3 separate regions of the Homo sapiens genome follow, and all the other regions are linked to region 1. Evidence: fine-mapped expression QTL. A gene starts in region 1. Each other region holds a variant in brackets. All regions are shown on one strand. Distances are from middle to middle.

Evidence for each region. PIP is the estimated chance that this variant, and not a neighbour inherited with it, causes the effect.
Region 2: its variant is the best candidate, but not a certain one, in a credible set for the expression of SLC13A3 in prefrontal cortex (CommonMind, PIP 0.56).
Region 3: its variant is the best candidate, but not a certain one, in a credible set for the expression of SLC13A3 in nasal epithelium (TOPMed, PIP 0.63).

The regions. Positions count from the first base shown.
Region 1 is chr20:46,649,653-46,653,893 of GRCh38, forward strand. It overlaps SLC13A3 (solute carrier family 13 member 3), which reads right to left and starts at 1,807. Exons shown (of 13, transcript NM_022829.6): 1 at 1,659-1,807. The coding sequence starts at 1,769.
Region 2 is chr20:46,560,397-46,564,637 of GRCh38, forward strand. SLC13A3 (solute carrier family 13 member 3) reads right to left here. Exons shown (of 13, transcript NM_022829.6): 12 at 3,018-3,155. Among named protein-coding and RNA genes, the nearest start is that of OCSTAMP, 12 kb to the left of the region's middle. The variant C/T (reference allele first, on the strand shown) is at 2,329.
Region 3 is chr20:46,606,562-46,610,802 of GRCh38, forward strand. SLC13A3 (solute carrier family 13 member 3) reads right to left here. Exons shown (of 13, transcript NM_022829.6): 3 at 3,885-4,048. Among named protein-coding and RNA genes, the nearest start is that of SLC13A3, 43 kb to the right of the region's middle. The variant T/G (reference allele first, on the strand shown) is at 1,769.

The sequences.
Region 1 (4,241 bases):
TAATCGCTCCACTTACAGGGAAGCAAAACCCAAAGAGGAAAGGAGATTGGTCCAAGATCTTAAGATCCACAGGTCAGAAAGTGGCCTGGGGTGGGCTGAGTTTTGCAAAGGTGACCTCATCCTTCTTCCATCATTTATTGTGTTTTTCTCTTCCACGTCGAGAAAGTCTAATAGCTTAGATAATTCCACACTAATGAACTTGCTGTGTGTTAGCCCTGGGTCTCCTTGGAACCACTGGTGTCACCTTCTTACTCCATGTGCCCAAGGAGGGCTCCTTCTTCCAGGAGAAGCTCCCTGGTCTCAGCTGATCGGTGCTGGGTAATGCACCACTAAATTATACCTCCTCTTTACTTTTATTTTTGTGAACATTTAATACCTCACTGAGAGATGGTGAAGCAACTTCCTGGAGGTAGAAGCCTTATCTTACAAGCCCAGTGCCCTCTCATGATGCCCTGGCTGGGCTGGGCAGGGCACAGGTGAAGAACCCAAAAGGGACCTGTGGTACCATCTCCTTCCAGCCCCCACTAGTGTTGATTTCAGTTATGACTCCTGAACTCCACCTGCGGCCTTTGATCTTACAGGGGTTACTTCCTTGGGGAGACTGAAAACAGCTAGGGTTCTGGATTCTGACAAGCCGGGGACTGAATACCGACATAGTCACTTGCTGTGTGACTCTGAGCAAGTCACTTTCTCTCCCCGAGCCTTGGTTTTCTCCTCTGGAAAATGGGTCAAATAATCTTTCCCCTCTGAGACGCGTTGAAATGATTAAATAAAGTGATACACAAAAGGCAAATCCTCACCCGTAGTAAGCACTCATGAATCTTACCGTCCTCATCACGTAAGGACCTGGTGCAGAAAAAGACCAGTCACTGCTTATTGGGCATTTATTCTGTACAAGGTTTAGTTATAAGAGATTTACATATATTGCCTCATTGATATTCACCGCTGCCCTATGGGTGGGCACTATCATTTCTCCCATTTTTACACATGAGTAAACTGAAGTTCAGAGAGGTTAAGTGACTTGCACCATGTCACACAGCTTGGCACCCAGTAAGTGTTCATTGTGACTGTCGCGTGAAATGTGCAATACAGCACCAAGCACAGAATTAGAGCTCAGGAAAGAAAGAATTCTGCTAGGCACAGTGGTTCACGTCTGTAATCCCAGTATATGGGAGACCAAGGTGGGAGAATTGCTTGAGTCCAGGAGTTCCAGACCAGCCTGGACAACATAGTGAGACCCTATCTCTATTAAAAAAAAATTAGCTGGGCATGCACCTGTAGTTCTAGCCACTAGGGAGGCTGCGGAAGGAGGATCGCTTAAGTCCAGGAGTTGGAGGCTGCAGTGAGCTATGATCACATCACTGCACTCCAGCCTGGGTGACCGGCGAGAACCTGTCACTGAAACGAAACGAAATTATTCCCATGGAAGTGAGATCCAGAAGGCAGGGTGGGACTCAAGCTCTAAGGAGCAGCTGGGAAGAGGGAAGAGGCGTTAGGAGCGTTCACAGCGGTCCGCGGCAGGTGCAAGGGAGGGAAGGCGAGGGGGTCTGGTGGAGCCTGTCTACACTGGGACCTCAGCGGTCTCCCAACTTGGAGGCTTGGGAGAAGAGGATCCCGCCTGTGGTTGACCGGGGGCGCACAGGCGGAGGAGGCGTTACCTTGGGCGGGAGGGCGAAGACCACCGGCAGCAGCGCGAGCGGCGTGAACAGCAGCACCAGCAGCCGCCGCGCGCTCCACACCTTCTTGGCCGCTGCTGCCAGCGCCGCCATCAGCGCGATCGCCTGGCGGTACGGGCCGGCCCGGGACTGCCCCGCCTGGCCCCGGCGCCGGCTTAAAGCCTGGGGGAGGGTCGGGGAGGGGACTGCGCTGGGGAACCCGCCCTCTCCCTGCTCCTCCTGGAGGAAAAGGGTGGTGCCTGCGCCCCTGGGACCGGGTGAAAGAGGCCCGGGAACGTTGGAGAAAGTTAGGCACTAGAATTAGCAAACGGGACCCCAGCCGCAGGGCAGTGTGGCCTTGCCTCTTGGCTTCCCAGCAATGTGGCCTGGGGCAGCTGGCTTATCCTCTCCTCGCCTCTGTTTACTCGCCTGTGAGATGGCTGAGGATGACAAGGCGAGGATTAAGGCGCGTACTCCTATTACCCGGGTTCAAATCCTGGCACGGCCACTTACTCACTGCGTGGCCTTCAACAACAGCCTCTGAGCCTGAAAGTGGAGTGGTGATAATAATAGTCTACACCATGGAATACTATGCAGTCACAAAAAAGAAGGACATCATGTTTTTTGCGGGAACATGGATGGAGCTGGAGGCCATTATCCTTAGCAAACTAACACAGGAACAGAAAACCAAATGCCGCATGTTTTCACTTATAAGCGGGAGCTAAATGATGAGAACACATGGACACATAGAGGGGAACAACTGACACTGAAGCCTATGGGAGGCTGGAGGGTGGGAGGAGACAGAGGATCAGGAAAAATAACTAATGGGCACTAGGCTTAATACCTGGATGACGAAATAATCTGTGCAACAAATCCCCATGACACAAGTTTACCTATACAACAAATCTGCACATGTACCCCTGAACTTAAAAGTTAAATTTTTAAAAATAGTCTACACCAGACAAGAAGGTTGTTAGGAAGTTTAAATGAGATAACACATGTAATGTGATTAGCGCAGTGTCTGGCAGAGCAGGTGCTCAATGAGAGTTATTGCTGCTGATGAGTTATTCTTATTTTTGGGTTTTTTTTTCTTTTTTTTGAGATGTAGTCTCACTCTGTAACCCAGGCTGGGCTGGGGAGCAGTGGAGCGATCTCGGATCACTGCAACCTCTGCCTCCCGGGTTCAAGCAATTCTTCTGAGTAGCTGGGATTACAGGCGTGTGCCACCATATCTGGCTAATTTTTTTTTTTTTTTTTTTTGTATTTTTAGTAGAGATGGGGTTTCACCATTTTGGCCAGGCTGGTCTCGAACTCCTGGCCTCATGATCCGCCCATCTCGGGCCTCCCAAAGTTCTGGGATTACAGGTGTGCGTCACCACGCCCGGCCGTTATTCTTATTTTTTTTTAAGGGGGGTGAGTCACTTCTATTCACTTCTGATTATTCTCAGGTAACCATACAGGAGTGCAACTGTTGGGTTGCCCAGTATTTGCAATGCTTAGCTTTTTAAGACACTGTCAACCTGTCTTCCAAAGTGATTGTACTATTTTGCACTTCCATCAACAATGTATGAATCATCCAGTTTCTCCACATCTTTGCCAACATTTGGTGTTGTCACTGTTTATTTTATTTTAACCATTCTGACAGGGACATAGTAATAGCTCATTGTGGTTTTAATTTCTATTTCCCTAATGGCTAGTGATGTTTAACATCTTTTCACATGCTAATTTGCCATCTCTATATCCTCTTTGGTGAACTATCTTTTCCTGTCATTTGCCTGTTTTCTACTTGTATTATTTGGTTTTTTACAGTTGAGTTTTGAAAGTTCTTTGCAAATTCTAGATGTCAGTTCTTTGCCAGTTACGCTGTTTGCAAATATTTCTCCCCGTCTGTAGCTTGTCTTTTCAGCCTCTTAACTATATATCACCAAGCAAACATTTCTAATTTTGATGTAGTTAAATTTATCAAATTTTTCCTTTGGATGATCGGGTTAAGCTCTCTGCATAGCCTTAGACCCCAAAGAGTTTCTCGTATGTTTAGTTTGCTTTGTTCTCACAGAAGTGTCCAAGGAAGAGAATACAGTCATGGGTTCTTAGTTTCTGTTTCTGGTTGGGCCAGTAAAGCCCCTTCCTCATCCCTCTTTTCCACTCATCACTAGAGACAGAAACTAAAAACCATGGCTTCAGGCTGCTAAAAGCTTAAAACAAACAAACAAACAAAAAAAGAACAACAACAAAATAAGGCAGGTTGGACAAGCTTGTCAGAAGTTTTACAGTTTTGAAACACTGTATTCATTACAAAATAACTTCATTCTCTCCTCCCACAGCCTCTGGAAACCATCATTCTGCTTTCTGTCTCTATAAATTTGATTAATCTGGATAGCTCATACAAGCGGTATCATGGAATATTTATCCTTTTGTGATTAGCTTTGTGTCCTTAAGGCTCACCCATGTTGTAGCATGTGTCATAATTCCTTTTTAAGGCTGAATAATATTCCATTGTATGGATATACTATATCGTGTTTATCCATTCATTTGTTGATAGACATTGGGTTGTTTCTACCGTTTGGCTATTGTGAGTAATGCAGC
Region 2 (4,241 bases), 89 kb before region 1:
GCAAGTGTCCCCATTCATTGATGGCCTCTAGGTTCCAGGCACTGTGTGCTACGCAGTTGTCACAGGGTTATGCTGTTTAACCCAGAAAGCAACCTTACAAAGGTCATTCTTATTAATCCCCATTTTATAGAAGAGAAAAATGAGACCTAGAGAAGTTGACTTGTCCAAGGTCACCTAACTTGAAAATAATCTTGTCTGATCACTAAACACCCCCATCCCACACACATATACACACACGCATGCACACACACACGCATGCATGTAGGAACACACATATGTACACATAGGTACACACACACACTTCAGGTCCAGTCCAGTCAGGTAGTCCTAGTCAAGACTACCCTTGTCCATTGGGAAGCATTTTTCTTCTGTCGGTGGAGAATGTGCCCATCTGCTCCCTACCCTGGCTGGCCTCTTGGACCATTCAGTCCACCTTGGGCTGAAAATCCTTGTTTTCCCACCTGGGTCTTCTGGCTGCCCCGCCTTCACATAGCCCAGGCTGAATCACATGGTGAGACAGTTACTTCCTTTCTAATTCTCTTTCTGTCTATTCCTCCCAGAGAAAGTCTCTCTTAGGGGTGTGATAGGAAAATAAATCTTGGGGCCCCCAAATTACTAAGCTAAAGAGAAAAGTCAAACTGGGAACTACTTAGGGCCAACCTGTCTCCCATTCTATTCAGTCATCCCTCTGCTCACTGAGTTGAATGCATATCTGATTGCCTTCTTTGGAAAGGCTCATCAGAGACTCAAAATAATGCAACCATTTGTCTCTTATATACCTATGACCTGGTAGCCCCCTGCCCTCTTTGAGTTGTCCCGCCTTTCCGGACCAAACCAATGTTCATCTTACATATGTTGATTGATGTCTCATGCCTCCCTAAAATGTATAAAATCAAGCTGTGCTCCACCCACCTTGGGTGCATGTCGTCAGGACCTCCTGAAGCTGTGTCACAGGCGTATGTCCTTAACTTAGGCAAAATAAACTTCCTAAATTTACTGAGACCTGTCTCAGATTTTTGGGGTTCACAGGGGCCACCATGGCTTCAGCACTTCTCTGCTCCTGTCAGTTGCCCTTTTAACAAGGAGAGGCCCAGAACCTTCTCCAGGCAGCTGCTATCAGGGAGAGCTTAATTCTTTTGTTTTTGCCGCTTTGCATTTATTTTTAGGTTTACTGGCCATGGCATATATTAATAATACCGGTTTTCCATTGATGGATGCACTGGAAACATTTCTTCTGGAATATTCTTATTCAAGTTTTTTTTTGTTTTTTTTTTTTAATGTCAAGCTGATTTAGTAAAGGTGTTAAATAAATATTACCACGGACGGGTGGGGGACATACTGCGTGTGCTGTCCTGCCTCTCTTCTAAGGGCACAGAGGTGGAAGCCCTGGCACCTTCGGAGGATTAGAGGGAGTCGGGCCGACATGTTGGGGAAACTGGGGGAGGATTGGGTCTCCCTTTGCCAGGGCTCAAAATTCCTGCTGGTCCCATGTTAGCTACTTCATTAACACCTAACTCATTACTCTCAGGAGCGAACCTGCAGGTGGGCCATCCCTGCCCGGGACTGGCTGACCGGGGGTGCCCCTTGTACCCCTCCACATCTCTTGCAAGTCTCTACCTCTTGGGGACTCTCCATTTCTCTGGCTGTCTTTATTCTCCAAATCTATGCTGTTTGCATTGCTGCCCTCTCAGTCTTTTTCTCTAAGTAGCCTCCCTGCTTCCACACTTGTCCCTCCCACCCTAACGATTCACTCCAGCCAGCAGCCAAAATGATCTTCTACAGACAGAAGTGAAATCACATCATTGCCCTGCTTACCGAGGGTCCCCACTGTGGTTTGAATAAGATACCAAGTCTGTCCTGTCCCCGCTGTTCCCTGACCTCGTGTCTCCAACCTCATCCTTCTCCAACTCCACTGCAGCCACCCCAGCCTCCTGGCCCTGAATTTCTGGAGCACTCGCTGCTATTCCTCTCTTCCAGGCCTTTGTACCTGCTGTGCCCTCCATTGGGACTGCTCTTCCCCTTTTTCTCTGTGAGGCTGGCGGCTTCCCATGATCATCAGCTCCCATGTCACCTTCCTGGAGAGGGCTTCCCTGCCACCCCTCTCCCCCGTCCTCTTACACTTCCTCATGTTTTATTTCCTTCTGAGCACCTAGCAATATTGAAATTTTACATAATTTAGGAAAATCTGCTGAACTTGTTCACGTCTGTCTCCACCAATAGAAAGCAGCCTCCTAGGAGGCGGATCGGTGTCTCTCCCACTCTGCAGTGCCCCCAGTGGCTGGAACATAGAATGCACTCAGTAAATAGTGCTGTAATGAACGAACAAAT[C/T]AATGAGTCTCTGTCTCGTCTCTTCTCTGTTTGCTCTGTGTCTCCCTTTCTGCCTCGCTCTCACTCTCGCTCTCTCTCCCCATGTGTCCTGCAGGGGTCTTGTGCCTGGAGGGCCTGCATCGCGATTGGTTAAGCAGGTCGCCCGTCTTGGCTTTGACAGCTTTGGAAGGGTTATTTGCAAAGCCAGTGGAGAGGGAAAAGGCCGCAGGAGTCAGGAGCGGGAAGGGAGGAGCTGGTTCAGCAGGGACCTTCCGGGGGAGGGAACATATTGCCAATGGCTGGGCCCTGCTGAAAGCTGGTGGGGTCCTCCCACTGCTACAGTCCTCCGCTTCTGTCTCCTTCCCAGCTGGCTGAGCACTGAGGCCCACCCCTGAGTCCTAGGGTGTGTCTGCTGCTTCTCTCCCCCGAAGATTCTGGGCACGAAGTGGGGTCCAGAGGGAAGGGGAAGTTCCTTGCCTCTGGAGCAAATTTTGGAAAGTAGTCACTAAGGCAGTGTTTCCTGAGATTGTCTAAGTGCAGGAATCATCCCAGAGTCTCTGCTAAATGTATGTTCCTGGTCCCACTCAGAAAGATCTATTCAGAGACTGGGGAGTGGGGTCAGCGTGCAGGAGTCCTGCATAGAGGCCTTGCCCGCCCCCTTGCGGCCCACCCACATCCCGGGGCCTCTGCTGGGAAATGCCCAGACTCACCATGTCTTTGACCAGCAAGTGTCCAGAGGCGAAGGCGATGGAGTTGGGGGGCGTTGAGACCGGGAGCATGAAGGCAAAGGAGCAGCCGACTGTGCCCGGAATCATCAGATACAGGGGGTGCACTCTCAGGCGGATGGCCTGGGCCAGGAAAAGGTGGGAGAGACCCGGAGAGAGACCAACGCAGAGCGACCACAGCAAGAGGGAGAGAGAGAGAGAGAGGCAGTTGGAAAGAGGGACACAAAGACGTAGAGACAGAGAGACAAAGACATCCATAGAGATTGGCAGAGTGGCAGAGAACAACAGGGACAAGTGAGAAGAGAGAGTTAGAGAGACAGAGAGAGAAAGGCAGTCAGAAAGACACATGCACAGGCAGAAACAGAGACAAGCAGGTAAGAAGAGAACCAGATCGAGAGAGAGGTGGAGAGAACATTCCCAGGGTTAGTGACATTCAAGGGCCACACTGTGGTTTGATCAGGGATGGGCTGGGGTGGTGTACCTAGAACACTCCTTCTCCAATGTGAGAGTGCAGAAAAGCACTTGGAGGGCTGGTTAAAGCCCACATGGCTGGCCCCACCTCACCCAGAATTGCTGATTCAGCAAGTCTGGGGTGGGATCCAAGAATCTGCATTCCTGACGTGTTCCCCCGGTGCTGCTGGTCTAAGGACTGTACACTGAGAACCAGGGCTTTAAAATACTTCCTCTGCCTGCTCCTTCCCTCAGCCAAACAATCTCAACCCAGAGTTGGCCTCTGGATACCTCTTGTTGGGGGCATCCCTGGATTTCAGTGAGAAAGAGAGCTCATGAGAGCATCTGTTGGCAGCTCTTCCAAATTTCTAAGACTGTGTGTATCAAACCCCCCTATGAGCTGGCCTCAGCTAGTGGGCCACCAGTTTGTCACCTCTCCTGCCTACAATTCATACTGATCACTTTTATGGCGTTTTACTTAAATAGGATATTTTTGGGCCTTCTAGGGAATTTTTGCAACCCAAAGCATATTTATTTTCTCAAAAAGCTCTAAAATCACCCCCTTGCATGTAAAATGTTTTTTGATTTTGATGATAAGCAAAGTTTACAAGAATGTGTCATTTACAAGTGTCTTTTCCAGCAAAAGCTGCCCCTTACAGACCTGGCTGGGTTCTATGCTCCGTCTCCGTCCCCATACCCCCTATAATACTCTCATTTCTCTCAGTGACCAGGTCCCTCTGAGGACTCCCACCCCATACT
Region 3 (4,241 bases), 43 kb before region 1:
GATATGGTGGCTCACGCCTGTAAGCCCAGTGCTTTGGGAGGCCGAGGCTAGAGGATCACTTGAGCCTGGGAGTTTGAGGCTGCAGCGAGCTGAATGCACCACTGCACTCCAGCCTAGGAGACAGAGGAAGACCCTGTCTCTAAAAAACAAAAACAAAATCCAGGTGGGCCCCTTACTGGCCAAGGAACATTGGGCCTATCATGGCTGTGAGCTTCAGTTTCCTCATCTGTAAAACAGGCATGCTAATAGTGCCTCCCCACAGGGCTGTGGTGGAGGACCTAATGAGAGCGTGCATGCAGGGGGACATTGGCGAAGCCATCACTCACATGGCCCCTGGGTCCCCCAGGAAGTGCAGGGCACAGAACTGAGCAAAGGAACTGGAGAAAGGCAACAGCGCTGCCCTCCAAGTCTGAGGACCTCTGGAGTCTTATCCAGATAGCCCCACCCTGCCCTAGGTTCTGCCTCCTCTGTACCAGGCACCATGGCAAGGTGCTTATAAGCACAGATTCTGGATTCTGACAGAGCTCAGCAAATCATCGTGTTACTTTGGGCAAATCATTTTGCTTCTCTGAGCCTCAGTTTCCTCATCTATAAAATGGGCATCATTACCTCCTAGTACAATTATGAAGATCAGATGAGCTAATGAGTATAAAAAAATTAGCATGGTATCTGCATGTGGTGGTTACTCAGAAAATGGGAGCTCAGCTCACATGATGATTATGGTTGCTGCTGGTGCTACAGATGTCCTTCATGAACCTATAGCTCCTAGGAACTTCCTTGTGCCTCTCCTAGCCCACTGGCAGAATCTCTACTCCCTCCACCCCTGTCCTCGCCTCCTGCCACCTGGTCAAAGCTCAGAACTGGATGAAAGGGAATAGCTCTCTTTGTACTGGAATTAGCCTTGTTTTAGGTCTTAGAAGCTGATCATTAACCAATTCCTGCTCCTCCCTGATCCCATGGCCTGTAAAGGTAGGTATCTATCCCAACCCCCAGGATCCCCTCCCTCTTGACATCCTGCAGCATAGGAAAAGGCTCTGGACTTCAATGCATGGCCACCACTGTGTGTGGCCTTGGGCAAGTCCCTTCCCCTTCCTGAGTCTCAGATTTTTCATTCTCACAATGAGGGACTTGGCTTTCAATCATTTGCTTGACCACTTTGGAAAAAGTCTCATGTGGGAGGCAGAATAATGGAGCCTGAGAATGTAGGCTCTGAAGTCAGCCAGCCCGGATTCAAAATACCAGAGCCACAGTTTGGAAACTGCGTAACGGGGGGTGGGAGGACTCTTTTTAATTCCTTCCTCAATTTCCATTTCTGTAAATGAGGTCGATGCTTGCTCCGTCTCATTCAGATATGAGGTCCACCTAAGAGTCCGCGCATAAACTAAGTGCACAGTAAACATTGGTTATTATTGCTTAGAGGCCCAGTGTACAAAATGAATAAAGTGAGTCTAACTAGGGTTGAAATGGGGAAAAGGGCAGAGTCCCAGGTGCTTGCTGCCACCCCAGGGTGACCATCAGGCAGTTCTCTTAAGGGAAACAGTTTGAAAATCAAGAAAGCCAATATTGTACAGCAGGGGTCAGTGACCTACAATATGCAGCCCCAATCCAGCCCACCGCCTGTTTTTGTGTGGCCTGCCAACTAGGAATGGCTTCTACATTTTCAAATGGTTGAAAAACATCTATGGAAGAATATTTCCTGATACAAAAATTATATGAAATTTTAATTTCAGCACCCATAAATACAATTTTTTTGTCACATTGCCACGCC[T/G]GCTTGTTTGTTTTATCTGTGGCTGCTTTCTCACTGCAAGGGCAGCGTTGAGTAGTTGCAACAGAGTGGCCCACAAAGCCTGCAGTATTTACTATTTGGTCATTTATAGACAAAGTTTGTTAATCCATGCTATAAAGCTTCTCTTCACTTCCTCGTGGAAGACTCTGCCGTTGCATAGAGCTGACTCTGCCACTTTGCCAATGCTATGATCCTCAACACATCATCTCACCTCTCCAAACTTCATCTGTAAAGTACATATAATCATTTCTAGTGTTCAGGGTTGCTGTGAAAATAAAATAAGCAGGACCCCTTAGTGTATGACGGGGAAATACTCATGTGACTGTCAGTGAGATTAACTTAGATGGTACACGGATCAACATTTAAGTTTTAACAGATACGTATTTAATTTAATTCATATTTTAAAAACTAGAACTAGCACACAAAACCTATGGTTTCATGGATAATGCTTGTTGTGTTCACTGAGGTAAATGATCCAAAGCCACAGGGGCAGATCTGCCATCTATCTCTCAAGATGTGGCTCCTGTCTTTGGGTCCCAGGTGCCATCATATTCACATTCCACCCGGCAGGAAGGACAGAACCCGGAAGTTGCACACATCATTTCCACTCATATTCCATTGACCAGACTCAGTTATCTGACCAAGTCTTATCACAAGGGGAGCTTGAAGTTTCAGCCTTTCCTCAGAGAGGAAAGTATTGGGTTCTATTCCTAAAAGAACAAAGGAAGAATCAATGCCGGGGTTAAACTAGCCATTTCTGCCCACATATGTATCAATTCAAATCTTCCTTTTAAAATACAGTTATGTAAATTAAAAGTAAGACATTTTAAAGTGACATGATGTGGCAGCCACTTTGCAACCATAAGACCAGGGGAACCAGAGTTGCCAATGAAAAATCATGACGTCATTGTGCCTCTGAATTGATCCTGGACTTCTTTAACTTCACTGTGTAATTTGGGAAAATCATTTCCCTCTTGGAGACTGTATGTAGTCACCTAAAAATACAATGGCTGTGTATGTTTTGTTTTATTAAGAACATAATTTCAGAGGATTGAGGGAATCAAATCCCTCCGTTCATAATACGTTATCACTATTTACTTCACAAAGCCTCTCTTTCCTATAATTGATTGGGTCTTTTTAGTCCTTTCTCTCCCCATTTCCCACTCTCACCCTTTCCATAGCAACCATTCTGATATGTTTAATGTGTAGCTTTTCATCATACATTGCTTACAAAATCTTTTGTCGTTCATGTGTATTTTCAGCTTACATATTGAGGTTGTATTCTAGATCTCATTCTGGTTTTTACCTCCAATCATAACTGCTCTATGAGATCCATTTATAGAAGTACATGGTTCACTAATTCTTCTCTCTTTTAAAAGGAGCATAATGCTCAATGGCATGTATCCACCATATTTGCCTTTGCCTGTACTAGCAATAAAGTGCATGTAGCCACCAACTTCCCACACCACAGAGAGCGCTACAGTGAATATCACTATGTGCGTTCCCTCCTGGACCTATAGGAGAATTCCTTTGGTGTCTGGGAGCAAAACTGCTGGGTTACAGAGTATAAACACATTTAATGTGATTAAATCCTTGCACAAGATCCTTAAGAAACTCTAACCCAGTCCACACTCTTTCTAGCAGTACACGAAAGTTCCTGTGGCCCCTATTCCTGTCAACATGGGGATTCATCAGCTTCCTTATTTCTGCCTGTCTCATTGATTAAAATGTTATTGTTTCAATTTGCATTTCTCTGAGTACTGGTGATGCTGAGCATCTCTTTGAATGCTGTAAAACAAGGTTTAATTATAGTACTTACTTCATAGAGCTGTTTTGAGAGTTAAGGAAGATAATGTATGTAAAGAGTTCAACTCACTGCTCAGTATACAGTATGTGCTTAATAAATGCAAATTTTAAACAACCAAGGTACCATGATTTCTTATCTAATTATCAGTCATTGTCATAACTAAAACACCTGACGCATAGTAGGTGCTCAATAAGTGTGCATGCCCTTGGCCTTCCCTAACATCCTTTGGACATCCCATTCCCACTTCCAAATCCTGGTGGATTTGGCCCCAATCCCTTAGCACAGCCTCACCTGTGTTCTCTTCACTCTCCTGGCTGGGGTCCTTTCGAACCTCCTTCTGGCCAAAGAGACTTTTCAGGATGGCATTGGCAATGGGAAGCATCATGGCAGTGGAGGCGGTGTTGCTCAGCCACATGGACAAGAACGAGGTGGTCACCATCATCCCCAGGATGAGCCTGCAGAGCAGATGGCATTAGAGGCAAATCCAGAACCCAGGGCCCAGGAGATCCTCTGGTCCCAGTTTGCCATCCCTGAGGAATACAATCCATCCATTTTACAGATGGAAACTTGAGACTCAAAGCAGAAACCAAATCCACTCACCAGGTTTATTTTAGATCTAAGAAAACTGTGGTTCAGTGTGTTTAAGTG